Linked DNA regions of Homo sapiens: regions 2, 3, 4, 5 and 6 are each reported to be linked to region 1. Evidence: microRNA targets listed by miRTarBase, many of them from high-throughput screens and not tested one by one. Region 1 holds a microRNA gene; each other region holds the end of a gene's coding sequence.

Region 1 (4,099 bases):
GCATTTAGGTGAAATTTCAATAGCTGAGAAGAGCTTTATTCGCTGCCTTCTTTCCAAAGAGTCTAAGCTGCTGCCTTTGGGGAGGACGCATTTGTCTCTTCTTCTGTGGAAAACGCGCGTGGATTCACCTTTGCAGCTAGAAGTTGCATTCCATGTGTGCGGCTGGCAGCTAGTTTAGGTGATTCAGAACAAGTATACATTTCTAATTTAGTAGATTTATAAAACCATACACTATATTTCCAATAGCTCCAGGGCATTGTATACAAATTAAATTCATAATTTAAAGCAGATGCAGGGAGAGCAGCAGCCCAGAGCCATGTTCATCCAGCACTTTCATGGCGGAGCAGCAGCTCCTGGCCCGGGCTGGGCATGGGGCCTCAGCCTCTGGCTGCAGGGAAGGAAAGTATGTGGATGCCCGTGTCCCTGGGCAGGGCCCCATAGCACCTGCCCTGAGAAATGGAACCCCACAATTTGGCCAGGGGAGCATCTGCCTCATGTTTTTAAATAATAAAGTGCGTTAGAGGTGGGCTGCGGTTATCAGAAGTGCATAGGGGCCAGTCTGCTGGCCTGGGTGAACTGGGCTCCAGGGGGTGCTGGGGAAGGTATGTTTAGCCTACCTGAAGGACAGCTGCCTCTCTGCCCAGCCAGTTGTCACCTGTGAGACTGCAGGGTAAGTGCCATCAAGTCTTCTGACTTTTAAAGAGAAGCTGGAAAGCCAAATTGTTGTATTAAATCTTCTGGCTCCATTTCTATGTTGGAGCTAATTCAGATTTATTTTTTTTGTTGTTGTTAAATTCAATGTGGGCCAAATAGAAGAGGACTGAGAGCCAGATACAGATTGCAGGCAGCAAGTTTGTAAACTCCATTTTAAAAGTCTCACCGTATAGAATGTTACATAGCTGAAGAGTAGAAGGGAAGCGTGAGGGTGAGGGGGGTGAAGGTGGCACCTGGTGGCCAGGGGAGGCCGCACCTCACTCTTCTCTTCAGCTATCCATCTGGCAGCTCACCTGGGCATGAGGGACATGATGAGTAAACGTGGCCATGGGGGCCCACAGGATTCTCCTACCTGGAAAGGGGCTTTGTCCAAATGCAAATAACCATCAACCAAAGAACTGTGTGAATCATGGTTATTCAATAATTTTAAATTATCTTATTGAATCACCCTCTTTTAATTTCTTCCAAGCATTCATTGAGCTCTATCTAAAATGATCTAATTTGTCATACAGCAGACGCTTGATAACTGGACTTTGTCAAGGTCGACGTTGTCCCCCAGCATCTAGAACAGGCTTGGCACACGGCAGGGTTTCAGTGTGTGTTGCCTGGTAGGAGGACTCATTCTCATGGGAATCTGCCCCATCTTCCATAACACCTCTGTACTGGGTATGGCCATTGAGGACCCCTTCTCGGGCTTCCCTGGTGCATGACCCTCAACCGGAAACAAGTTCCCCATTTCTGCTTTATACTGTCTTCCTTTGAAAAAACAACAAATGATGAGGAAAAGCTACCCAGCATGTGGAATTTGCTAGATGGTCAAGAAGAGGCCAGTGGCCAATGTGGGAACCACTTTCTGACCAAACATTCTGATGGCTTTACTCATGCGGGGCTCCTCCAGTTTCCAGATGTGCTTCCCTGGTCTCCTCCTCTTCCAGTCTTGGCTCAGATGGCGAATCATACAGAGCGCCTTTGCCCCACTCACCTGGCACCTGGACCACCTCCCTCATCCCTCACATCACATCATGTTGGAATTGTCCCTTTATCCAACCCCTGCCCAGACACTGAGCCCCTAAGTGGGGACAGAGCTTGTATATGGGGTTGGAAGAAGTGACTGTAATAGCAGCTGACATTTCCTGACCATGAATCTGGTGCCAGGTTCTGTGCTCACTGGCCTCACTGGAATTCTCTTATTCAGTCTTCACAATATCCTGATAGCCTAGATACTATTATTATCCCCATTTTACAGCTGAAAAAAATGAGGCACCAAGAGGCTGAGTTATTTTCCTTAAGTCTTACTGTCCAGGCAAACCAAGAGTGCACTTGGGGAACTTGACTTGAAAGCTCTTGCCCTTAACCTTGGCACTATACTGTCCCCCCAAGCTAATGTTCCGGAAATATTAGTGGAGAAATGATTAAATCCTACAGTCCCTTACAGATAGCACCACAGAACCTGTGGTGTTTACAAATGCTTTCAAGTCATCATTTCCTTTACGATCATCATACTCTTGATTTTAAAGGACAGTCTAAAGGCACTCCAGGCCGAGTCCCCTAACCTTACCCATCTGGAAATTGAAAACAAGCACCATCAGTCTCCAAGGAGTCCTGAGCTGGGGGTGCTTTGGTTCAGTTCCTACCTGCCACTGAGGAGAAAAATCAGAGTGGGCCTGTGACGTGGACTAGATGTGCAATCTGTGTTGTGGGGTCCAGGCCTCAGCCTGGGGACACCCTGTGCCAACTCTCTTTACCTTGGCTCCTAGATTGCCTGTGCCGCTGTTGACTGTGTCAAAGACAAGAACCAAGACCTGTGCCAGCAGGAGGCGGTCAAGGGCTACCCCACTTTCCACTACTACCACTATGGGAAGTTCGCAGAAAAGTATGACAGCGACCGCACAGTAAGTGGGGGAGAGGCGTCTGCCCAGAGCTCTCTCTCTGCTGATGGGCAGGGAAACTTCCACTGAGGAGGGGCAGCACTGGGCAGCATCCCAGAAACTGCAGAAGTCAGCTGGAACACTGCACCGAGAGGCCCAGGCCCTGGGCCTGGCTGAGGCTTGACATTGTTGGAGGAGAGTCCCAAGGGGTTGCCACAGATGTCCTGTCCCCAGAGGCAGGCTGGACTCCAGATGCCGAGGGTTTTCTCACTTGCTGGTCGGGGCTGGTGCAAGCCACGCAGACCCTCTCCACCTTGCAGAAGTCTGCCCACCTCTCCCTGTCATAGGAGTGACCCCCTGGAGGGGCTGGGGGTGTGGGGAGAGAGAGTGCACAGCCAGCTCAGGGATTAAAGCTCTTTCTCTCTCTCTCTCTCCCACTTCCCTGCAGGAATTGGGATTTACCAATTATATTCGAGCCCTCCGGGAGGGAGACCATGAAAGACTAGGGAAAAAGAAGGAAGAGTTATAATTCCTGCCTCAGAAAAAGCTTTTCCATTACACTGTGAATGATACCTGTTTTGTTGTTTCTGAATTTCCACATGTTCTGAAGACAAATTTTTTATAGCCGCTTATGGCCATTTTGTACAATTTTGAAATAAAATTAAACCATTTATTTGGTGGTATGGTTTATTTTCGTGGAGCCTGTACTAAAAAAGGTGGATACTCACATCCTCCTCATTCCACCACCTCTGCTGGGAGGTACAGAGCAGTGCTCCAGTGCCCCATCTGCATGGAGGTGACTCCTGAGGGTGTCGGCCCCCTGTCAGTCATTTGAGAGCAGAACAGGGAAACTGGACCGCAGAATATCCTGCTGGAAAATGACAAGCTAATGAGAGGAAATACGTCAAGATGATCAATGACTTTGGGAGGCTGAGGTGGGAGGATCACTTGAAGCCAGGTGTTCAAGACCAGCCTGGGAAACATTATGAGACCTCATGTCTACAGAAAATAAAGTTGCTGGGCATAGGGGTACATGCCTATAGTCCCAGCTACTTGTAAGGCTGGGAAGGGAAGATTTCTTGAGCCCAGGAGTTCAAGGCTGCAATGATCTATGATCGCATGACTACTCCAGCCTAGCTAGAAAGCAAGACCTGTCTCAAAAATAGAAAAAGAAAAAGAAAGAAAAAAACAAAAGATGATCAGGGAAATTGGGATGCTGAAGCAAATGGTAACCAAACACTAGCTTCTTCTGGATCATTGCGGTTTCAGCATTGGTGTGTTTCCTCTGTGTGTGTTTTCCTGGAACTTACTTAGGTATTTATCTTTCTCCAGCTATTTGTCTTCTCTTCGTCTCTCCATTCCCTCCCCAATCTCCCTTTAAAGAAAATTAAGTTGCCGCTTCAGGGGCATGAATGGAGTGGGGGAAGGGGGGCTCTGTGCCAGCTGCTTGCTGTGCACCCTGGCTGGAAGGGATGGTGTGTTCTCGAGGTGCAGATATTAGATCTGCTCACCAGCCC
Region 2 (4,099 bases), not on the chromosome of region 1:
ACTTAATGAAGGAGCATTTTCTGTCTTTGGCAGTTTCATAATTATGCGAATACCATTGAGTATAATTACACAAACCTAGATGGTATAGACTACTATACACTGAGGCTATATTGTGTAGCCTATTGATCCTAGCTTTAAACCCGAGCAGCATGATACTGTTCTGAATAGTATAAGGAAATAGTAACATAATGGTAAATATTTGTGTGATAGGAATTTTCAGCTTGATTATAATTTTTTTTTTTTGAGACAGGGTCTCACTCACTGGAGTGCAGTGGTGCGATCTTAGCTCCCTGCAACCTCCGCCTCTTGGGCTCGAGCAATCCTCCTGCTGTAGTGCACCACGACACTCGGCTAATTCTTTTTTAAGATTTTTCTGCAGACAAGGTCTCACTTACTGCCCAAGCTGGTCTCAAACTCCTGGGCTTAAGTGATCCTCCCACCTCGGCCTCCCAAAGCGTTAGGATTACAGGCGTGAGTCACTCTGCCTGGCCTTGATTATAATCTTATGGGACCACTGTGGTCTGTAGTTGACAGAAATGTCGTTAATGTGGTGCATGACTGTTATTATTATTTTCTGTCCTGCCCCTGAGAGCCACTGTCACTTCTCTGCTGTATTGGTTTTTGTTTACTCATCTGTTTTGGCCTTGAAATGGCCTAGACATTTTTCTTCCCGAAGTATGACACTCGGGTGCTTATTAACTTAGTCAAGACACAACATCTCCCTTCCCAGAAGGTGAGGCGGGAGTGAGGACTTGGGGACTTAAGAACTACCAAAGTTCAGAGTCCAAAGAAACATTAGAAATTGGCTAATCCACCCCCATAACACGCACATTTTACAGATGAGAAGACTGAGCTCAGAGCATAGAAATAGCTTGCCCAGGCCATGACTAAGTCAGGATAAGGAGCTGGAGCTTGTTTCCTCACTCAGTGGTCCTGACTTTGCACCACTCTGCATTTGCCTAGCCTGCCTTCCTCTAACTGTGCTCTCCCTACTTCCAGGCCTCACCTGCAGATGCCCCCCAGCCTGGGCCAGATGAGCCTGCCCTTTGACCAGCCTCACCCCCAGTGAGTGACAAAGCCCCTCCTGACCCCATGTGCCTCTTCTTTCCTGGCCTTGCCCCGCTCTCCTTATTTCCATTGCTGGTTCCTGGCAGGGGCCTGCTGCCGTGCCAGCCTCAGGAGCATGCTGTGTCCAGCCCTGACCCCCTGCTCTGCTCAGATGTGACCATGGTGGAAGACAGCTGCCTGAGCCAGCCAGTGACAGCGTTTCCTCAGGGCACTTGGTGAGTGGCAGCTTGGGAGTGGAGGCTGGGTGGCATCTAGGGGAGTGGGCGCCATGCCTACTCCACTGCTTCTCCCATCTCCTTGCAGGATTGGTGAAGACATATTCCCTCCTCTGCTGCCTCCCACTGAACAGGACCTCACTAAGCTTCTCCTGGAGGGGCAAGGGGAGTCGGGGGGAGGGTCCTTGGGGGCACAGCCCCTCCTGCAGCCCTCCCACTATGGGCAATCTGGGATCTCAATGTCCCACATGGACCTAAGGGCCAACCCCAGTTGGTGATCCCAGCTGGAGGGAGAACCCAAAGAGACAGCTCTTCTACTACCCCCACAGACCTGCTCTGGACACTTGCTCATGCCCTGCCAAGCAGCAGATGGGGAGGGTGCCCTCCTATCCCCACCTACTCCTGGGTCAGGAGGAAAAGACTAACAGGAGAATGCACAGTGGGTGGAGCCAATCCACTCCTTCCTTTCTATCATTCCCCTGCCCACCTCCTTCCAGCACTGACTGGAAGGGAAGTTCAGGCTCTGAGACACACCCCAACATGCCTGCACCTGCAGCGCGCACACGCACGCACACACACATACAGAGCTCTCTGAGGGTGATGGGGCTGAGCAGGAGGGGGGCTGGGTAAGAGCACAGGTTAGGGCATGGAAGGCTTCTCCGCCCATTCTGACCCAGGGCCTAGGACGGATAGGCAGGAACATACAGACACATTTACACTAGAGGCCAGGGATAGAGGATATTGGGTCTCAGCCCTAGGGGAATGGGAAGCAGCTCAAGGGACCCTGGGTGGGAGCATAGGAGGGGTCTGGACATGTGGTTACTAGTACAGGTTTTGCCCTGATTAAAAAATCTCCCAAAGCCCCAAATTCCTGTTAGCCAGGTGGAGGCTTCTGATACGTGTATGAGACTATGCAAAAGTACAAGGGCTGAGATTCTTCGTGTATAGCTGTGTGAACGTGTATGTACCTAGGATATGTTAAATGTATAGCTGGCACCTTAGTTGCATGACCACATAGAACATGTGTCTATCTGCTTTTGCCTACGTGACAACACAAATTTGGGAGGGTGAGACACTGCACAGAAGACAGCAGCAAGTGTGCTGGCCTCTCTGACATATGCTAACCCCCAAATACTCTGAATTTGGAGTCTGACTGTGCCCAAGTGGGTCCAAGTGGCTGTGACATCTACGTATGGCTCCACACCTCCAATGCTGCCTGGGAGCCAGGGTGAGAGTCTGGGTCCAGGCCTGGCCATGTGGCCCTCCAGTGTATGAGAGGGCCCTGCCTGCTGCATCTTTTCTGTTGCCCCATCCACCGCCAGCTTCCCTTCACTCCCCTATCCCATTCTCCCTCTCAAGGCAGGGGTCATAGATCCTAAGCCATAAAATAAATTTTATTCCAAAATAACAAAATAAATAATCTACTGTACACAATCTGAAAAGAAAGACGCTCTAACTGCTCAGATAGGTGCTGCGGTCCAGCCCCCAGCTGGAGGAGACCCTGAGTCCAACCCAGGCCTCCCGAGGGGGCCAGTGAAGGGATCCCACACCCACCGCCCCTATGTAGGGCAGGGAAGAAATTGCAAAGGACTTGGGGGATAGATGGGAATGGGAGGGCAAACTGCAGCACTTGTTAAATTAATTAAAGAAACAAACCAGAAGCACAAAAACGGGGAAGGAGAGGGGAGAAGGAGCAGGTCCAGTGTTCCCAGGCCCCCAATTCTGGGGGCAAATGTTGCCACTTTTAGCTGGACCTTCCCAGGGAAGTCCCCCTTTCCCCCTTGTCCAAACTGAGTCCAACTGCTCACACCACTGGTGCAAACCTAAAGAGAATGGGAGTGTGTTGTGTGAGGGAGGGGAAAACCCCAGATGCCCTGGAGGCAGAGTCCTTGCCCCCTCGCTCTGGGCAGGGGTGAGGGCACCACGCACCCTCCTTGTGTCCTCTCTCCAGGCCTCTGCTTGTTATTGCTTGAAGCCCCACAGTCTTATGCCCATGGAGCAGGTGGGGAGGCAGGAGAAGGGCAGAGGAAGGATCCAGGGTTGTGACTAGATTCCGGGGATGGAGAGCGTGGGGGTCTGTGTGAGCCAGAAGTCTGAGGTCCTGGGTCTGAAGACACCAGTCCAACCCTCACTGCCGGCTGGCCTCAGCCTCCACTTTCACGCTGCTCCTGCGACCCTCCACCAGCGCGGGATGGGGTCCTGGGGCAGGACATCTGTCCAGCAGCCCTTCCTCGAACTCTGCAGGGAAAAGGGGGCAGTTAGGAGACTGCAGGGTGACTGGCTGCAGACAGAGGTGGTTGGGAACAGAAGCAGGGGCAAAGAAAGCTGTGAAGATGGGCTCAGTTTAGGTTTATTGAATTACTGCCTCCTGCCCACTGCATGTGTATGGGGGGTTCCATTCCCATGTGTGTGAGCCCCCTCCCCTCCCTGGCTGTGCGTAGCTCTGTCTCTGTCTGTCTCTCTCTCTTTCTCTCCCGCCTCCTCGGTTGCGCTGGAATTTCTGGTTCTGTCAGGAGCTGCGGGGGTGGTTTGGCTCTGACCTCTCCCCTCCCCCCTTCCCAAGCTCTGCCACCCCCACTCATCCCTGGCCCCCTCCCAGGCCCCTCCCAGGCCACTCTACCATGGCCCCCCAAGTTTTTTGGTAGCCAAATCAGAGGGAGAACAGGAAGCCAGCCTCCGAGCTCCTCCCTCAAGAAGAGCCCCCCTTCCAGTCCCCGCCCCCACTTCCCACCCACGCACAGTTTAAAAATACCAAGCCAGGGTTGGTGGCTTTGTCTGCTGCGTCACTCTCAGCCCAGCGGCTGCCCGGCCCTCCG
Region 3 (4,099 bases), not on the chromosome of region 1:
GCTAGTCCCTGAGCACGTCGTCATGACCAAGGAGGAGGTGACAGAGCTGCTGGCCCGATAGTATCCTTTCCAGCCCCACCGGCCCCGCCCCTCCCTGTCCCTCGAGACTTCCGCGTTCCCCCCCCACACACACCCCTGCCCCCCCAACGGCCCTGTCTGGCATTTTCCTGACGGTGCTTCGCAGTAAGCTCCGAGAGAACCAGCTGCCCAGGATCCAGGCGGGGGACCCTGTGGCGCGCTACTTTGGGATAAAGCGTGGGCAGGTGAGCCCTGTGGGGAGAAGGGGCCCTGGGGCTGCTCTGAGCTGACCACTCGGAGAAGGGGGCTTCTGTCCCTCCCCGACAGCCCCTCCCCCTTGATCCAGGGCCTGGAGGGGACCTCGAGACCACACCCCCAATATCCCCCTCTTAAAGCCAGGGCCACTGGGCCCAGAGAAGAGCGTGACCCAGGTTCCCAGGGAGCGGGTCCCACAGCCCAGGGTCAGCCATCTCGGACCCCTGCCGGCCATCCCCAGCCCGTGTGCTGCCCGCCTGCTGTCTGGTGACTGCAGTGAGACCCCTCAAGCATTCGCAGCCCCTGCTCTCTGTCTCTGCAGGTGGTGAAGATCATCCGGCCCAGTGAGACGGCTGGCAGGTACATCACCTACCGGCTGGTGCAGTAGCTACCGCCTGACAGGTGAGACGGCCGAGGGACAGGCACTGAGGTGGGGTCAGAGGCAGGGGTGTCGTCCCCTCCGTCGGTGTGCAGGGCTGTTCTTGCTTTGTCCGGCAGCAAGACCCTCCTAGCACCAGCCCAGCTGGGCCACCAGGCGCTCCCAGGACACCCCCAGACCCCCAGACCCCACCCGACCGTAGGCTGCAGCTCTTGGGGCTGTGCGCCTGGACGGGAGAGTCCTGGTACGCGGGGCGTGCGTCTCTCCGCCGCTGACCCACCTTAGAAGCAGGAGACGTTCACCTGCAGGGCAGTTGTGCGGCGGGACTTTCCAGAAGAGGGTTTAGAAACCTGCCCAGAGACCCCAGAGCTGAGAGAGGAGGCACAGCTTCAGGCCAACCCTTCCCTGAGTGGGCACCTTGGGAGGGACTGGCCGGAGTCTCAGGAGCGGGACAGCCTCTGCCCATGGCGAGAGCCTCCCAGCTTCCCCTGGACTCTGGTCATGGCGAGCTGCTGTCCTGCAGGCCGCCCCACTTCACACTCAGCCCAGGGGTGGGGCTTGGCCTGGTCTGACGCTGGCACGGTTCCTTTGAGGTCAGAGCTACTGCCCACGCCTGTGTGACCGCTGGGCACAAGGGAGCCGTCCGGCCTCTGCACTGCGGCCTGGGCCGCCTCCTGCCAGGCCTCCCGCACCCCGTCACGTTCGGTGGGCGTTGTGCTGTCCTGGGCATACTGGATCTGCCCCTGTCGTGTGACCACTCTCCCCCTTTCCTAGCCCCTAGAGGCGGACACACAGCGACCCCCATCCCTGCAGGACAAACGCCCCTGCCCTGCCAGAATCCGGCCCCCACAGCTCTCACGGCTGCTGCTCCTCTGGACTCCCCAAGGCAGGTGGCCTCCACCCACGTTCTCCCGTCCTGGGGTGAGGCTTCCTGTGGCCCAGCCCGCCCCATTCACCTGTGGATTTGTGCGAGATGCAGCCTCAGAAGGAACAAGGCCCCCAGAGGGAGGTCACCTGGGGGCAGCTGGTGCCGGGTCTTCACCCAGACCACGCTGGGTCCCCTCTGTTGGGGGTTTGGGGTCCGGGTCTCCCACCAGCCACTGCTTCCTCCTGGGCCCTCGGCCTTCCACCCCTCGTCTTCCCTCCCTCGGGGGCCCTGATGCGTGGCGGCCCCCGCCCGGCCTCGGCTCTTTACTCCATTCACAGCCATGCACGCGCTCAAGCCACCAGGGTGCGAGATGCCAGCTCTGGAGTTCTCGGTTGTTGTAGGAGGTTGGGTGTTTTCAAATGGTAAAGATGTTTTGAGCAAATAAATTTGCTTGATACAGAAACCAGGCCGACTAACAAGGTTTCCAGCAGGTGGCCTTGCCTCACCCCAAGCACACGAGGTCAGCCTGGCAGGTGTGCCCTCCTCGCGCTGGCTTCAGGGGTCAGTGTCTCCCCAGGCCCTCGCCCTGCCCTCCCACTTCGTGCTCCTGGGTAAGGCGTGAGCGTGTCTGTCTCTTCCCTTCCCGTGAGGGTGTGGAGTTGTTCTCTGGCTTGTGCAGCTGTGGTTTGCGGCCAGTTCCTCTTACAGACGTTTGGGATCTGGCTCTACTTCCCCGTTTGCTTACTGTCTGATTTCAGAAGGCCTCGCCTGCCCAAGTTTAACCTAGCCACGTGGTTCTCTCACAGTAGCTTTATTAAGATGTAATTCACCCTCGGGCGGTCGGTGGTCTGTAACGCGCCCACTGTTCTGTGCAGCAGGGTCCCCAGATCCCCAGGCCGCGGACTGTGTGTGTGATGGGGACAGTGCTTCCCCTTCTCTCCAAATGTACTTTTTTCAAAATTGTCTTGGCCAAAGCAAGCCAGACCCAAAGGGACAAACACTGATGTCACTCCTAGGAGGTCACTAGAGTCGTCAGAGACTGGAAGTAGGATGGGGGTTCCCGGGACTGGGGAGTTGGGTGGGGATGGGGGTTCCCAGGGCTGGGGAGGAGGGAGGGGACAGAGTGTGTCATGTGCACAGTTTTAGTTTGGGAAGATGAGAAAATTCTGGAGGTGGCCGGGCGCGGTGGCTCACGCCTGTAATCCCAGCACTTTGGGAGGCCGAGGTGGGCGGATCACCTGAGGTCGGGAGTTCGAGACCAGCCTGACCAACATGGCAAAATCCCATCACTGCAAAAAATACAAAAATTACCTGGGCGTGGTGGTGCATGCCTGTAATCCCAGCTACTTGGGAGCTAAGGCAGGAGAATCACTTGAACCCAGGAAGTGGAGGATCGCTTGAGCTCAGGAGTTAAAAGACCAGCCCGGGCAACACAGAGAAACCCCCCACCTCTACAAAAAACTTTAAGATTACCTGGGCACAGTGGCTCACACCTGTAATCCCAACACTTTGGGAGGCTGAGGCGGGAGGATCATTTGAGCCCAGGAGGCCGAGGCTGCAGTGAGCTACGATTGTGCTCCTGTACTCCAGCCTGGGCCACAGGGTCACACCCTGTCTCAAAAAAAAAAAAAAATGCAGTTCCACAGGCGCATGGGCCACGTTTCCAGTGCTTGGTGGCCATGTGGGGCTGACGTGCGAAACCTTAGAGCCGGGGGATACGTCCGTCATCGAGAACGTTTTCCTGGACTGCCCTGGGCTGCAGGTGGACGTGACGAGGTCATTCGATGCCTGACCGTCTGCACAGCCTGTGGTGAAGACCACCCGGGCTCCCACCTCGCGGGGCCCCGTGGCGGGGGGTTCCCTTCCTCACACATCCCTCCCCTAGGGGGAGGCCCAGGGCCACGCCACGGGGCTCTCTCTGTCCCCTCCCTGGCCCCTTCTTCTAAGCTTGCAGCTGCCACAGAAAATCTTCTAAGCTTGCAGCTGCCACAGAAAACACCCGATTAAAAACTTTTTATTTCAGCAAAATAAACGTGCCTGTGAAAGAACCACACGGTGGCTTCCGAGAGACCCCACTGTGTACCTGAGCCCCAGGTGGCCACACCTGGTGTTCTGGAAAAGGGAGTCCAGGGCCAGTATTCAGGCCCTGCTGTACTGCACCCTGGAAACTGCACCAAACCCCAGCTCCGCCCCCATCCACGGCTCCCAGAATGGTTTCTGGAGTCCCTGCAACAGACCTGTGAGGAGAGGGCAGGGCAGGGCCTGCCTCCTGCGTCCCCGTGATGACCTGGGGGATGCACTGGGCAGGGACAGCTTCCTCCATCCACACAGCCCTGTGGGCACCAACAAGGCCACTGTGACTTCACACGACAGCAGTGTTCCCCAGCTCAGCTGAGCCGGGGTGCAGGGGACAGCACAGGGCACAGTCCTGTGCCGCAAGGCCCTCGTGCTCCTGGAAGCCTCTGGGAGGAGGCGCCCGCTGGTGGGACGTCGAAGTCCAGGCGCTCTCGGCAGCGACCCCAGGACGGCGCACCTAAGCTATGCCGTGGTGCAGGGGACGTGCTGGAGGGACAGGAGCA
Region 4 (4,080 bases), not on the chromosome of region 1:
GTTATAATGCTTTTTGCAGGGCATCATGGGATCATATATTTCACTTTCACTGTACAAATAAGAACAATTTTACTATCAGAAAATATAGCTGCATTATGTATGAGATATAGAAGTTTTGACCATGTGCACAGGTATCTACAAATAAAACCTAGATGTCAAACTAAGAAGAATTGGCTATTTCTGATGTTTCCATTTATATCCATTTTGTTTCTTGTTTGTTTGGCTTTTCAAGCTGGCACTTCCTATCAGGCAAATGGGAGTCGGTGTTACAGACTCAAGAGAAATGTATGGAACAAAAACTTACCCTTGAATAAATTTGATCATTAAACCTAATCATTTTCCAGGAAATTGGGGAAAAAACTTTCACTATTAAATTTTTGTTTTCCCAGCTCTAACCTTCACAAATCTCCAAAATAATGATTATCTCTAGAAGGTAACAGATATCAAACATATGAACAACATATAGAGAGAAAAGACAAAAATGTGAAACTTTAGAGGAAGGTGGAGAGAGCTATGCTAAAGAAAGGAAGACAATTCCTTGCATTAAAAAAAGTAGGATGGAAGAGTTTGATTTACCTCTCTTTCTGCATAAAATCTGGACACTTCTTTAAACATTCCTTCTCACATCTCCCTTGCAAGTGTCTTCTCCCTGGATTTGGGCAGCACTCTGACTGTATTTTAAAAGCATTGTTTCTTCCAGAGAAATAGTTAACCTTACTTACTTTTGCAACTTCTTTCTCCATATTAGGTATGTATTTTACCTACAGTCATCTATACTCAGAAAGAAGAGACATCCTCGGAATCTTTCCCATTAAAAAAAAGAAGATGTGAAGTACAGCATTCCAGTGTGACACGAGAAAAGACAGGCTGTGGATTCAGTGCAGTAAATAAAACACAGGAAGTATTCTGGTGGAAAAATACCTTGTATTTGATAAAAATCCATTACATGAAATAACTGCACATACCCCCAAAACTCTAGACATAACAGGCTATGTTTTTCACACATTGTATTTTTAAGACATATATATTCTCCATACCCTGCTTCACCAAAATTCCTGCTTCATTTGGATTTTATACAAGTTATACTTACATTGTATGAAGTCTGATTATTTTCCTGTAAGTTTAATGAGAAATAGGAGATTAGCTGCAATAGATTCAATTAAATTAAGAAACCAAACTTGATAACCTAAATTACATGTATTCTTTTTCACTTCCAAGTTCCCAAATAGATCTGTAGGAGAAGAGGGATGGAAAATATATTCCACAGTTGCCTAGAATAACATATTTCATAGACAGATGTCTGTCTTCAGATCTAATAATACTCACCCTAAACATTAGATATGTTTAGAAAATTAAATATCTTTCCAAGCCCTATGTCTTAGCTCAGGTTGCTATAATAGAACACCATAAACCGAATGGCTTAAACAACAGCAAACGCTTCTCACAGTTCTGGAGGCTGGGAATTCCGCTCAGGATCAAGGCATCAGCTAATGCAGTTTCTGGTGAGGGCCCTCTTCCCAGTTTGCAGATAGATGTCCTTCTTTGTCCTCACATGAGAGAGAGATCAACTCTCTTATGTCTCTTATAATGGCACTAACCCCATTCATGAGGGCTCTACCCTCATGATCTAATTACCTCCCAATGGCCCCACCTCCAAATACCATCATATTGGAGGTTAGGGCTTAACACATGAATTTTGGGGGAACACAAAGATTCACTCCATAGCATTCTGTACCTGGTCCTACAAAATTCATGTCCTCCTCACATGCAAAATACATACATTCCATCTCGACAGCCTCAAAAGTCTTAACTCATTCCTGCATCAACTCTAAAGTCCAAAGTCTCGTCTAAATCAGATGTGGGTGAGATTCAAGGTAGAATTCATCCTGAGGTAAAATTCCTTTCCAGCTTTGAACTTGTGAAATGAAACAAGTTATGTGCTTCCACAGTACAATGGTGGGACACACAAAGGGTGGACATTCCTATTCCCAAAGCAAGAAACAGGAAAAAAGGAAGGTGTAATGGGTCCCCAGCAAGTCCAAAACCTAGCAAGGCAAACACCATGAGATCTTCAGTCTTAGTAATAATCCTCTTTGGCCTGATACTCTGGCTTCAGGACCCAGTGAGGCAGAGGTATTGCCCCCAGGACTATGTTGGAGGAGGATGACCCCCATATCACCAGGCGGAAGCTGTCAGGCCTGTTGAAACCAAGGCAATGACTGCCCCTTTTGAAACTGAGAAGGTACCACTGATGTTCTCTGAATCATTGTTCCGGGTCAGTTTCTCCTTTTCTTGAAGAATAGTGTACATTCACAGCTGAATAGCTCTATGGTCCCAAATTCAAGAAGTCCAACAGTCTTCCCTCATTCTGTCCCATCTCCATTCCTTTCAATACAAACTAGCAGTGTTCCTGCTGGGGTGGCTGATTAGGTCTGTGGTTCACACCCACATAAATCTAATTGGATGACTTGTCTGCTACACTCTTAGTGTTCTCTACCAAACGTGTTTTCTTATCTTTTTGTAATGCAGACAGACTGATAATTTCCCACATCTTTTAAGTTCTGGTTCCGTTTTTGTTAAGAATTCTGTCTTCATTTTTTGTCACATTTTACTTTAAGCAGTCAAGATAAACCGAGGCACTCCTTCAACACTGGTTGGAGATCTCTTCAGTTCAATATCTAATTTCATGGCTCACAATTTTACTTTCCACAAAACACTAGAACATGAACACAATCATCCAAGTTCTTTGGCATATTATAACAAAGATCACCTTTCTTCCAGTTTCCCATAACAGGTTCCTCATTTTCATTTGAGACTTCATCAGAATGGCCTTTATTGTCCATGTCTACCAACATTATCTTCATGGTGATTTACGTGTTCTCTATGAAGATGGAGGCTTTCTCTCCCACCCTCTTCTCTTTGAGCCCTCACCAAAATCACCTCTATCAATCCCTTCATGGCAATACTGGCTTTTTCTAGCAAAAAAACTAGTACCTCAAAACTCTTCCAGTACTCTTCCAGGTACTCTAGTACCTCAAAACTCTTCCAGCTTCTATCTGTTACCTAACGTCAAAGCTGCTTCCACATCTTTATATATTGGTTATAGCATCACCACACTTCTTGGTACTAATTGCTGTCTTAGCTTGGCTGCTATAACAAAATACCATAAACTGGGTGGCTTAGACAACAAATATATTTCTCACAGTTCTGGAGGCAGGGAAGTCCAAGATAAAGGTGCTAGACAATTAAGTTCCTGATGAGGTTCCAAGGTGCTAGCTGATTCTTCTTCATGGTTTGCAGATGAATGCCTTCTTGCTATATGTTCACATGGTGGAGGGAGAAACCATCTCTCCCTTATTTCTTATTGTAAAGGTACTAATCCCATTTATGAAGGTTCCAGCTTCAAATGCCATCACACTGGAGATTAGATTTTCAACATGTGAATTTAATGGGGGACACCAGCATTCAGTCCCTAGTGCTCTGATAGAGTATTCATTAATGTCATGTATTTGTTAACATCTTGTAAGTTATTTGGGCTTTGATGCCTTAAAAGAAGACCCTGGCCAGGCATGCTGGCTCATACCTGTAATCCTAGCACTATGAGAGGCTGAGGTGGGCAGATCAGTTGAGGTCAGGAGTTCAAGACCAGCCTGGCCAACATGGTGAAACCCCATTTCTACTAAAAATACAAAAATTAGCCAGGCATGGTGGCGCATGCCTGTAATCCCAGCTACACGGGAGGCTGGGGGCATGAGAATCGCTTGAGCCCAGGAGATGGAGGTTGCAGTGAGCAGAGATTGAGCCACTGCACTCCAGCCTGGGTGACAGAGTGAGACTCTATCTCAAAAGAGAAGACCCTAATGAAAATAGTAAACCTTTAGCAAATACACAAATGATGCCCCATTCTGTATTCTTTTTAATTTTAAAAATAATGACACACACATACAGGAAGATAAAAGGTATAAAAATATACTAAGTACTTTTTAAAAAGGAAAATTCATGTTTTGGATTATTACTGAATTGTTGCTAATTACTGTAATGTAAGTCATATGTCCTTACATAGTTTTGAAAAATGCTTTC
Region 5 (4,099 bases), not on the chromosome of region 1:
GGCCACGAGTAGGCACTCGGGGTCGCGCAGGTGCGCGCACGCCTCCCTCAGCTTGGCGAAGGAGAAGTGCTCGTCGTAGCCCACAAGCACGGCGCGCACGCGCGGGGCCGCGCCGTCCCCCGCGCTCGGGTCCCCGGCCAGGCGCAGCCCCGCGGCGCGCAGCTCGGCGCGCAGCCCCTCGCCGCCCAGCACGAACACGGCGCCCGGCGCGTCCGGAGGCCCGGGCAGGCGCTGGCGCAGCAGGCGCGCGGCGCACAGCGCGGAGCTGAAGAGCTGCTCGGCGCGCAGCCCCCCGAAGCCGAGGCGCGCGAAGCGCAGGGCCAGCTCGGGCCGCGCGCGCCGGCTGTTGTTGCTCACAAACAGAGCCGCCTTGCCGGCCCGCGCCAGCCGCTCCAGCAGCTCCGGGGCGCCCGGCACGGCGCGCTCGCCGTTCCACAGCACCCCGTCACAGTCGAACAGGACCCCCTGCGCCCGGCCCAGCACGTCGCGCAGGGCCGCTCCGCGCAGCCTCTCGCAGCGCGCCATGCAGCCGGCCGGCCGCCGGCCTCCCGCGCCGCGCTCTCTCCGCGGGCACGGCGCGCTCTCCCTGGCACGTTCCACGCAGCCGCCAATTGGCGCGCTGGAAGGACCGGGGGGCGGGGCGACGGCGTGGCCTGCAGCCAATGGGGGCGAGAGTCTGGGAGAGGAGCGAAGCCGCGAGCTAACGGAACTTGGAGAGAGGGGCGGATTCGTGGCCAACACCGAGGGGAAGGGACCAATGAAGAGCTAGCTTGATCCTTCTCCCCGTCCCTGGTTCTGCTGGACCAGTCGCCGCCGAGTTTCAACGCCGACTACACTCTTACGCGGTGGGAGACTGACGCTCTTCTTAACCAATAAGAATCTACAAACAAAACGCGAAGCGAAAGGCCCCGTGCCCTCCAGCCAATCAGAAGCTTAGGCGAGCTGGTTGCTGGGAGAAAAACAGATGTTAAATGAACTGCCTTTGGGTCGAATCTCATTGCCCCCTGAATCGTGGACGCTCCAGTTCAGAGCGAAGTCCCAAGAAACGTGTGTGTACGATGGGGTACGAGGCACATGGTGTCTTCTTGGGTGCTGGAGCCCTCGGTCTAGACCAGTAGTTCTTCACACTGCGTTAGAGTCCCCTGGGAACTTATTTTCAGATATCATTTACATATAGTAAAATGCATAGATCTTAAATGTACAGTTCAATGTCTTGACAAATGCTTTTGAAATCACCGATGTGTAGCAGGACAGATCCTCATGTAAGTGTTTTGGGTGAAGACTGGGCATTTTTTGGTTTGTTGGTTAGTTGGTTTAATTCCAGGGATTCTACCGTGAGCTAGGATAGGGTAGGGAAGCACTGGGCTAGAGGCTGGTAGGCTGTCACTGCAGCACGCCCCGGGAGGGCAGGATCCAGAATGGTCGTGGCCAATTGCCCAGAATAGTAATGGGGTGACCCAGGTTGGCTGGGTCCCTGTCTTAGGGAGGAGGCCTTGTGATCTGGAAGCAACCACAGGTCTTGGGACCTTTGAGGAGCCACTGGTCTGCAGTGTGGGGATGAATGAATTGTGAGCTGTGGTGTCACAGTTTTGAAGTTGTCTGCCAACTTCAGATAAGGCTGTGACCCCCAGGAGCAACTGGAGCTCCAACGACTTGGGAAAAACTGTACCTTGTACCCAACCTTGGAAGCTCAACTAGCTCCTATTCCCCAAGTGCCCTAAGCCTTTTGCTCCTGGCCTTTGCATAGATAGTCTCCTTGGCCTGAATGTTCCTTTTTCCTTTAAAAATTTCACCTTCAGGGCCGGGCTCGGTGGCTCACGCCTGTAATCCCAGCACTTTGGGAGGCTGAGGTGGGCGGATCACGAGGTCAGGAGATCGAGACCATCCTGGCTACGGTGAAACCCCGTCTCTACTAAAAATACAAAAAAAAAAAAAAAAAAAAAGAAAAAAATTAGCTAGGCGTGGTGGCGGGTGCCTGTAGTCCCAGCTACTCGGGAGGCTGAGGCAGGAGAATTGCTTGAACCCAGGAGGCGGAGCTTGCAGCGACCTGAGATCGTGCCAATGCACTCCAGCCTGGGCAACAGAGCGAGACTCCATCTCAAAAAAAAATAAACAAAAAATAAAAAATAAATAAAATAAATAAAAATAAACAAAATTCACCTTCAGGTCAGCTCCTGAAAGACTTCCCTTAAATATCACCTTCTCCAGGAAGCCGTTCTTAACCACCCACCCCATACCATGAGTCTAGGTTATATGGCCACCCCTAACTTGGCTAATATGGGCTCCCAGTGCAATGACACTTGATTTTTTTTGTTTTTGAGACAGGGTCTTACACCGTCACCCAGGCTGGAGTGCAGTGGCATGATCACTGCTCACTGAAGCCTCCAACTCCTGGGCTCAAGCGATCCTCCTGCCTCAGCCTTCCTAGTTGCTGAGACTACAGGCACACGCCACTACACCCAGTTAATTAAAATTTTTTTTTTTGTAGAGACAGGGTCTCACTATGTTGTCCAGGCTGGTCTAGAACTCCTGGGCTCAAGTGATCCTCCTGCCTCAGGCTCCCAGTGCTGGGATTATAGGCATGAGACACCGTGCCTGGCCAGACACTTGATTCTAATGGTTGCTTCTGCCTGTCTGTTTGGGAACTCTTTGGGTGTAGGGTTAAGTCTTGGAGCTAGCTCAGGGCCTGGCACAGAGCAGATTTAGGGAAGGTTTGAGGACAGATCCATCCCTGCTCCTTGGGGAGGCTTCCCAGCCTCCTCCCGGAAGGAGAGTGAGGGGTCCAGGAAACAGTGGGAGCGGTAGGGGCTTCTGTGGGCCAAGGGTGGTGCTTTGGTTTTCAATGGAGAGCAATACCTCTGTGGAGGGAATTGTTATAAAGTTTCACAAATGAGGAAAAGGGATACCAAGAAGTTAAGTAAATTGCCCAGAATGTGAGGGACAAGCCAGGCTTTGGAGTCAGACCTAGGCTCTAATCCCAGGCCCCTGCCTGACTGCCGTGTGACCTTGGCAGGTCACTTCTGTCTGGGCCTCAGTCTCCTCACTGCTAAGAGGTAATGGTATTTCCTGCAGTAGGAGAAGATTAAGTGGAAATCATCCACAGAACAGCACAGCATGTAGTGCAGAGAAAGCTCTAAAAATGTCTGCTGTGATCTCACTTCAGACAGGAAGAAAGGAGGCAAAGAATATGTATTGTTTTCCCCTTTATAAAATTGGCTTCTTTATTTCAAGGACAGAAAATAAAACTATCATTTGGGCAGCTGCTCCAGTTTTGTCCAAAATAATTTATTTACCAGCCTTACAAAAAACATGTCGGCAAGAGAAGAATCAGTCCCGTAGGAGCAGGCAAACCTCTCCTTCCTTCCGGTGGCTCCCCTAGGACCTGCCGGAGAGTGGAGAGTCCGGTGGGGGGGTCCCCAAGCCCAGGGTGGACGAGGAAAAGGTCAGGAAATAGAGGATTGTCCTGAGCCCTCCTGGCCATGGGGGCCGACCCAGTGGGCACTGAGGCACTTGTGGGCAAAGGCTGGAGGCCCATGCCCCTTTGTGGGGGGCGAGAGCTGTCCTGGGAGGGCCAGGTGGGGAGGGAGGGGGTGCTGAGGGCTGCTTAGGGAGAAACCAGCCACTCAGTTGGTCTCTGAGGCAAGGCTCCTGGGGCGGGGCTGAGGGGGGATAGCTGGGGGAGTGGGGACCCCACTGATAGCCTCAGGGGCTCCTCCCTCTGCTGTGGCAGCCCCCAGGTCCACCTGTGCAGGGTTACTCAAAGAGACTGGGCTGGGGGAGGCTGGACCTGGGGAGGCCGGGCTGGGGGAGGCTGGTGAACGCCGGCTTTGGCGCCGGGCAGGCTGAGGGGGTGTGGGGGGTAACGGGGGTGGCACTGTGGGGGCTCGGAGGCTGCTGCCAACCAGACGTCGGGGCAGGGCTTGGGGGGTCCCAGGGCTGCCAGAGCCAGGGGGCAAGGGCGGGGCTGGAGGGGAGGAGCGGGAGCCGGAGACCTGGGGGGGCGGCATGGTGGGCCGGGCTGGCGCCGGGCGCTTGGCTGTTGAGGAAGGAAAGGGTGAGGGAGGCTGAGTGTCCACGTGGCCTGTGGTGAATCCACCAA
Region 6 (4,010 bases), not on the chromosome of region 1:
GTCCAAATTCATATTCTAAAAGATGCTATCTCTTACAAATTGAGGTGGTTTCTGAGGAGGGGTGGGGGCTGGGCCAAAGGGTCGTCAGTGACCCCTCCCTACAGCTCTCTGACCCATGTCTCTGTCTCCATCCCACCCTCACTAGTGCCTCCATATCTGGGACCTGGATGTGCGTGGCAACCATCGGGGCCTGTGGAGATTGTTTCGGAAGAAGAACCACTTCCTGATGGTGGGGGTCCCGGCTTCCCCCTACTCGTGAGTGACCCTTTTCTGCCCTGGGAAACAGGAGGCCTAGTGAGATCCAGGGATATAGCTAATGGCTTCTTCTCTATACATTCTTGTATTATTTTCCCAGAGTGAAGAAGCCACCCTCAGTCACCCCAATTTTCCTGGAGCCACCCCCAAAGGAGGAGGGAGCCCCAGGAGCCCCAGAACAGACATGAGACCTCCTCCAGGACCCTGCGGGGCTGGGTACTGTGTACCCCCAGGCTGGCTAGCCCTTCCCTCCATCCTGTAGGATTTTGTAGATGCTGGTAGGGGCTGGGGCTACCTTGTTTTTAACATGAGACTTAATTACTAACTCCAAGGGGAGGGTTCCCCTGCTCCAACACCCCGTTCCTGAGTTAAAAGTCTATTTATTTACTTCCTTGTTGGAGAAGGGCAGGAGAGTACCTGGGAATCATTACGATCCCTAGCAGCTCATCCTGCCCTTTGAATACCCTCACTTTCCAGGCCTGGCTCAGAATCTAACCTATTTATTGACTGTCCTGAGGGCCTTGAAAACAGGCCGAACCTGGAGGGCCTGGATTTCTTTTTGGGCTGGAATGCTGCCCTGAGGGTGGGGCTGGCTCTTACTCAGGAAACTGCTGTGCCCAACCCATGGACAGGCCCAGCTGGGGCCCACATGCTGACACAGACTCACTCAGAGACCCTTAGACACTGGACCAGGCCTCCTCTCAGCCTTCTCTTTGTCCAGATTTCCAAAGCTGGATAAGTTGGTCATTGATTAAAAAAGGAGAAGCCCTCTGGGGATGTCTTGTGATTGTGATTTTGTGTGTCAGGGGGGTGCTGGAGGGAAGTGGTGGAGAGAATACTTGTGTTGGATGGTGAGTTTTCCTTACTGTCCTCCACAGAGTTTATCTTCCATTTGGGGCCATTTGGCCACCAGGGGATGCCTGAGTCTCAAACTCCAAGGTTTTTCCCCAACTCTACCCTAGGACAGCTTGACTTTAGCCCCGCCCTACTTGAGGCTTGGAGCAGCCACCCTACCTCTTCCCCACCGTTTAACCACCAGCCGGGTTCCTGCTTATCTTGCCTGGGCCGGGCACCTGTCCCCAGAGACAGAGCAGGAGAGAACAAAAAGGGATACTGGGGAGTTGGAAGAGGAAATGAGAGAGCAGGTGTGCATAGTAGGGGTGGGAAGGAAGTGGATGGGACAGGACTGGGCAGGCATCATTCAAGAGACGGGCTAGGGTGCAGATGGAGATGTAGGAGCAAGGGTGTCTATGGCCCTTAGAGCACTTTGCTATTCAGAATTCTCTATCTGGGCATTTTTGTGGAGAAATGGGTCATGGTCTTCATCAGATTCTCACATAGCCAGTAACCCAAAGAGGTTAGGAAGATCTAAGTTAGTCATAGGGGCACCAGAAAATGGATGGGATTGTCCAGAGGGAGTGAATGAGAAAGCCTACGGCAGGGAAAAGAACATTTAAGGGATCTGTGAAGGGCCTAATGTCAGGAGGATGAGTGTGGAGCACCTCTTCAGAAAGGGTCTGCCTGCCTCTGTACAAGTACAGAACTCCAGCTGGAACTCCAGCCCTCCTGCCTGCTCTCTGCCCTGCCTCTTTCACAGGTGCTTGGAGCCCAACTCGGTGACAGCATGGGTGGTATGTCGCTTGGACATATCTCGCCACCCTGACGCCTTCAGTGTTTGTTGGAGCTGGATATAGTGCCTGAGGTGGCACAACAGCCAGGTTGAGCAGCAATTAGCCCATGATGAGGTAGAGGCCCGCCCTGGGCAAACAAATCCCATGCAGCCTCCACACAGGCACACGGCAGAGGAGAAGTGTGAGAGGCACAGTATGGTGGTGAAGGGGTGAGGCAGGCTAGCTCCTCCCCCTGTCCCGCACCCTAGCAGGCTCCTGGTCTGGCCCTCACAGACCAGCTCTAAGGCACTGTTTGGTTCTGGCCAGGTCCCTCTTCCTTTCTGGGCTCAGCAAGGGGGTGGTGGTTCTGGGCTGCCCTGGAAAAGCTCAGGAAGAGAGTTACAGGGGTCAAAGGGAAGTAAGGAGGGGGACTGGTTTGTTAGGCTGGGCTTTGCTTGGTAGCAGACACTGTACCCTCTTGCCATAGCCTCCCTCAGGCCTCTCACTCCTGGCTCAACAGTGATCAGGTCTATATCAGACATTCTGGCCAGCTGCCCCTTCAAGTGGAACTAGTACCATGTCAGCCAGGACTACACCAGGTGCTGGAGTTCTGGGCCCAAATCTAGGCTGAGCTCTTCACAGAAGCCTGTGGGACTGGGGCAAGTATCTTGGCCTTTCCGATCCCTAGTTTCCTACCTGGAGCATAGGGATAGTTAGGGCTAAAGAAGAGATGAGGTCTAGGTCAGGTGAGGTGGCTCACGCCTGTAATCCCAGCTCTTTGGGAGGCTGAGGCATGTGGATCACCTGAGGTCAGGAGTTCGAGACCAGCCTGGCCAACATGGTGAAACCCTGTCTCTACTAAAAATATAAAAAGTTAGCCGGGCGTGGCCGGGCACGGTGGCTCATGCCTGTAATCCCAGCACTTTGGGAGGCCGAGGTGAGTGGATCACGAGGTCAGGAGATCAAGACCATCCTGGCTAACACAGTGAAACCCCGTCTCTACTAAAAATTCAAAAAATTACCCGGGCGAGGTGGCGGGCGCCTGTAGTGCCAGCTACTCGGGAGGCTGAGGCAGGAGAATGGCGTGAACCCCAGGGGGCGGAGCCTGCAGTGAGCCGAGATCGCGCCACTGCACTCCAGCCTGGGCGACAGCGAGACTCTCTCAAAAAAAAAAAAAAAAAAACACAAAAATTAGCCGGGCATGGTGGCAGGTGCCTGTAATCCCAGCTACTCAGGAGGCTGAGGCAGGAGAACTGCTTGAACCCGGAGGCAGAGTCCGCAGTGAGCCGAGATCACACCATTGCACTCCAGCCTGGGCAACAAGAGCGAAACTCTGTCCCAAAAAAAAAAAAAAAAAAAGAAAAGAAAAGAAAAAGAGGTGAGGTCTGAAGAACACCAGGTAGGCCAGCAGCAACGAAAAAATGAAGTGCTTGCTGAGATCCCAGAAGCAGGGACAGATCTGGGGTTTTGCCTGAGTGGGAAAGGCAGGCAGCCTGGACCCTAGGAAGGGGGCTCCTGAAGGGCTTCCCAGAACCTAAGGAGTGACCCTTTCCCATTGCCCTGGTAAGAATTCGTCACAAGCTTGTTATTTTCATAGCTTTCCAGTCCAGTGCCCCTACCCAGGAGGGGGTAGTTTCAGTCCAAAGTTCTCCCCTTTATAAGGAGGCAGACTGGCCTAACCCAACTGTACTTCTTCATGCCCTCTCAGCCATCCCTCTTAGTTTCCCTCCAAGGCCTGGAACCCAAATGAAGGGGAGAAATAACCACTTCTGACCCCCAACCCCACCCTACTTCCCTCCTTTCCAGGGCCTTCTGAGTTGGCAGCCCCACAGGAATCCGTGGCCAGTTTAGGCCCCTCTCCCCAAGGATACATGAAGAGTCCAACTGGCAACATTGTAACAGGTTTATGCATTTTGAAGTGCCTTCTACACATCCACCCAGAGGCTCTGCTGATTTCACTTATGCCCAGGCTATAAAATGCCTTTCTCTCATCCCCCAGTAGAGCACTGGGATCACCACTAGGCCTAGGGGGCATATCAAGGGTTTAATAGACTGGGGGAATGGGCAACAGAACTGGCTACCTTAGAGGCTCTGGAATGCCCCCCACCCATCCACCCACCAATGGAAGGAAAGTCAGGCATCGCC

What was found. The annotated mature microRNA hsa-miR-7110-5p reads UGGGGGUGUGGGGAGAGAGAG and lies in region 1 at 2,950-2,970, shown strand. An mRNA with a match to its seed (bases 2 to 7 or 8) in the 3' UTR can be bound and repressed. Matches are read on the target gene's strand: a 7mer-m8 pairs with bases 2 to 8, a 7mer-A1 pairs with bases 2 to 7 and ends in A, and an 8mer does both.
Region 2: the mRNA of NAB2 is a reported target of hsa-miR-7110-5p. Seed matches in the 3' UTR shown: 7mer-A1 at 3,353-3,359.
Region 3: the mRNA of POLR2E is a reported target of hsa-miR-7110-5p. Seed matches in the 3' UTR shown: 7mer-A1 at 1,450-1,456.
Region 4: the mRNA of HACD4 is a reported target of hsa-miR-7110-5p. Seed matches in the 3' UTR shown: 7mer-A1 at 964-970 and 7mer-A1 at 2,167-2,173.
Region 5: miRTarBase lists SH3BP1 as a target of hsa-miR-7110-5p. Seed matches in the 3' UTR shown: 7mer-m8 at 3,587-3,593.
Region 6: miRTarBase lists POMGNT1 as a target of hsa-miR-7110-5p. Seed matches in the 3' UTR shown: 7mer-A1 at 481-487.

The regions. Positions count from the first base shown.
Region 1 is chr3:123,158,850-123,162,948 of GRCh38, forward strand. It overlaps MIR7110 (microRNA 7110), which reads left to right and starts at 2,945; the gene lies at 2,945-3,030. PDIA5 (protein disulfide isomerase family A member 5) reads left to right here. Exons shown (of 17, transcript NM_006810.4): 16 at 2,472-2,606; 17 at 3,031-3,255. The coding sequence ends at 3,111.
Region 2 is chr12:57,094,034-57,098,132 of GRCh38, reverse strand. It overlaps NAB2 (NGFI-A binding protein 2), which reads right to left. Exons shown (of 7, transcript NM_005967.4): 7 at 2,657-3,521. The coding sequence ends at 3,412. STAT6 (signal transducer and activator of transcription 6) reads left to right here. Exons shown (of 22, transcript NM_003153.5): 20 at 1,000-1,065; 21 at 1,155-1,283; 22 at 1,372-2,725. The coding sequence ends at 1,561. Among named protein-coding and RNA genes, the nearest start is that of NAB2, 7.0 kb to the right of the region's middle. RefSeq lists enhancers at 1,693-1,812, 1,490-2,326, 2,871-3,401, 3,893-4,099, 3,934-4,099 and a silencer at 3,828-3,897.
Region 3 is chr19:1,086,048-1,090,146 of GRCh38, reverse strand. It overlaps POLR2E (RNA polymerase II, I and III subunit E), which reads left to right. Exons shown (of 8, transcript NM_002695.5): 5 at 2-60; 6 at 185-263; 7 at 596-675; 8 at 1,427-3,573. The coding sequence ends at 661. ARHGAP45 (Rho GTPase activating protein 45) reads right to left here. Exons shown (of 23, transcript NM_012292.5): 23 at 3,519-4,099. Among named protein-coding and RNA genes, the nearest start is that of POLR2E, 7.3 kb to the left of the region's middle. RefSeq lists enhancers at 1,092-1,191, 3,758-4,099.
Region 4 is chr9:21,003,788-21,007,867 of GRCh38, reverse strand. HACD4 (3-hydroxyacyl-CoA dehydratase 4) reads left to right here. Exons shown (of 7, transcript NM_001010915.5): 7 at 749-4,080. The coding sequence ends at 831. Among named protein-coding and RNA genes, the nearest start is that of HACD4, 26 kb to the left of the region's middle.
Region 5 is chr22:37,655,209-37,659,307 of GRCh38, reverse strand. SH3BP1 (SH3 domain binding protein 1) reads right to left here. Exons shown (of 18, transcript NM_018957.6): 18 at 3,191-4,036. The coding sequence ends at 3,624. PDXP (pyridoxal phosphatase) reads right to left here and starts at 585. Exons shown (of 2, transcript NM_020315.5): 1 at 1-585. The coding sequence starts at 525. PDXP-DT (PDXP divergent transcript) reads left to right here and starts at 931. Exons shown (of 6, transcript NR_109952.1): 1 at 931-1,053. RefSeq lists silencers at 89-198, 399-708 and enhancers at 209-710, 899-948, 959-1,028.
Region 6 is chr1:46,185,703-46,189,712 of GRCh38, reverse strand. It overlaps POMGNT1 (protein O-linked mannose N-acetylglucosaminyltransferase 1 (beta 1,2-)), which reads left to right. Exons shown (of 22, transcript NM_017739.4): 21 at 146-255; 22 at 356-1,030. The coding sequence ends at 443. TSPAN1 (tetraspanin 1) reads right to left here. Exons shown (of 9, transcript NM_005727.4): 9 at 3,751-4,010. Among named protein-coding and RNA genes, the nearest start is that of POMGNT1, 11 kb to the left of the region's middle.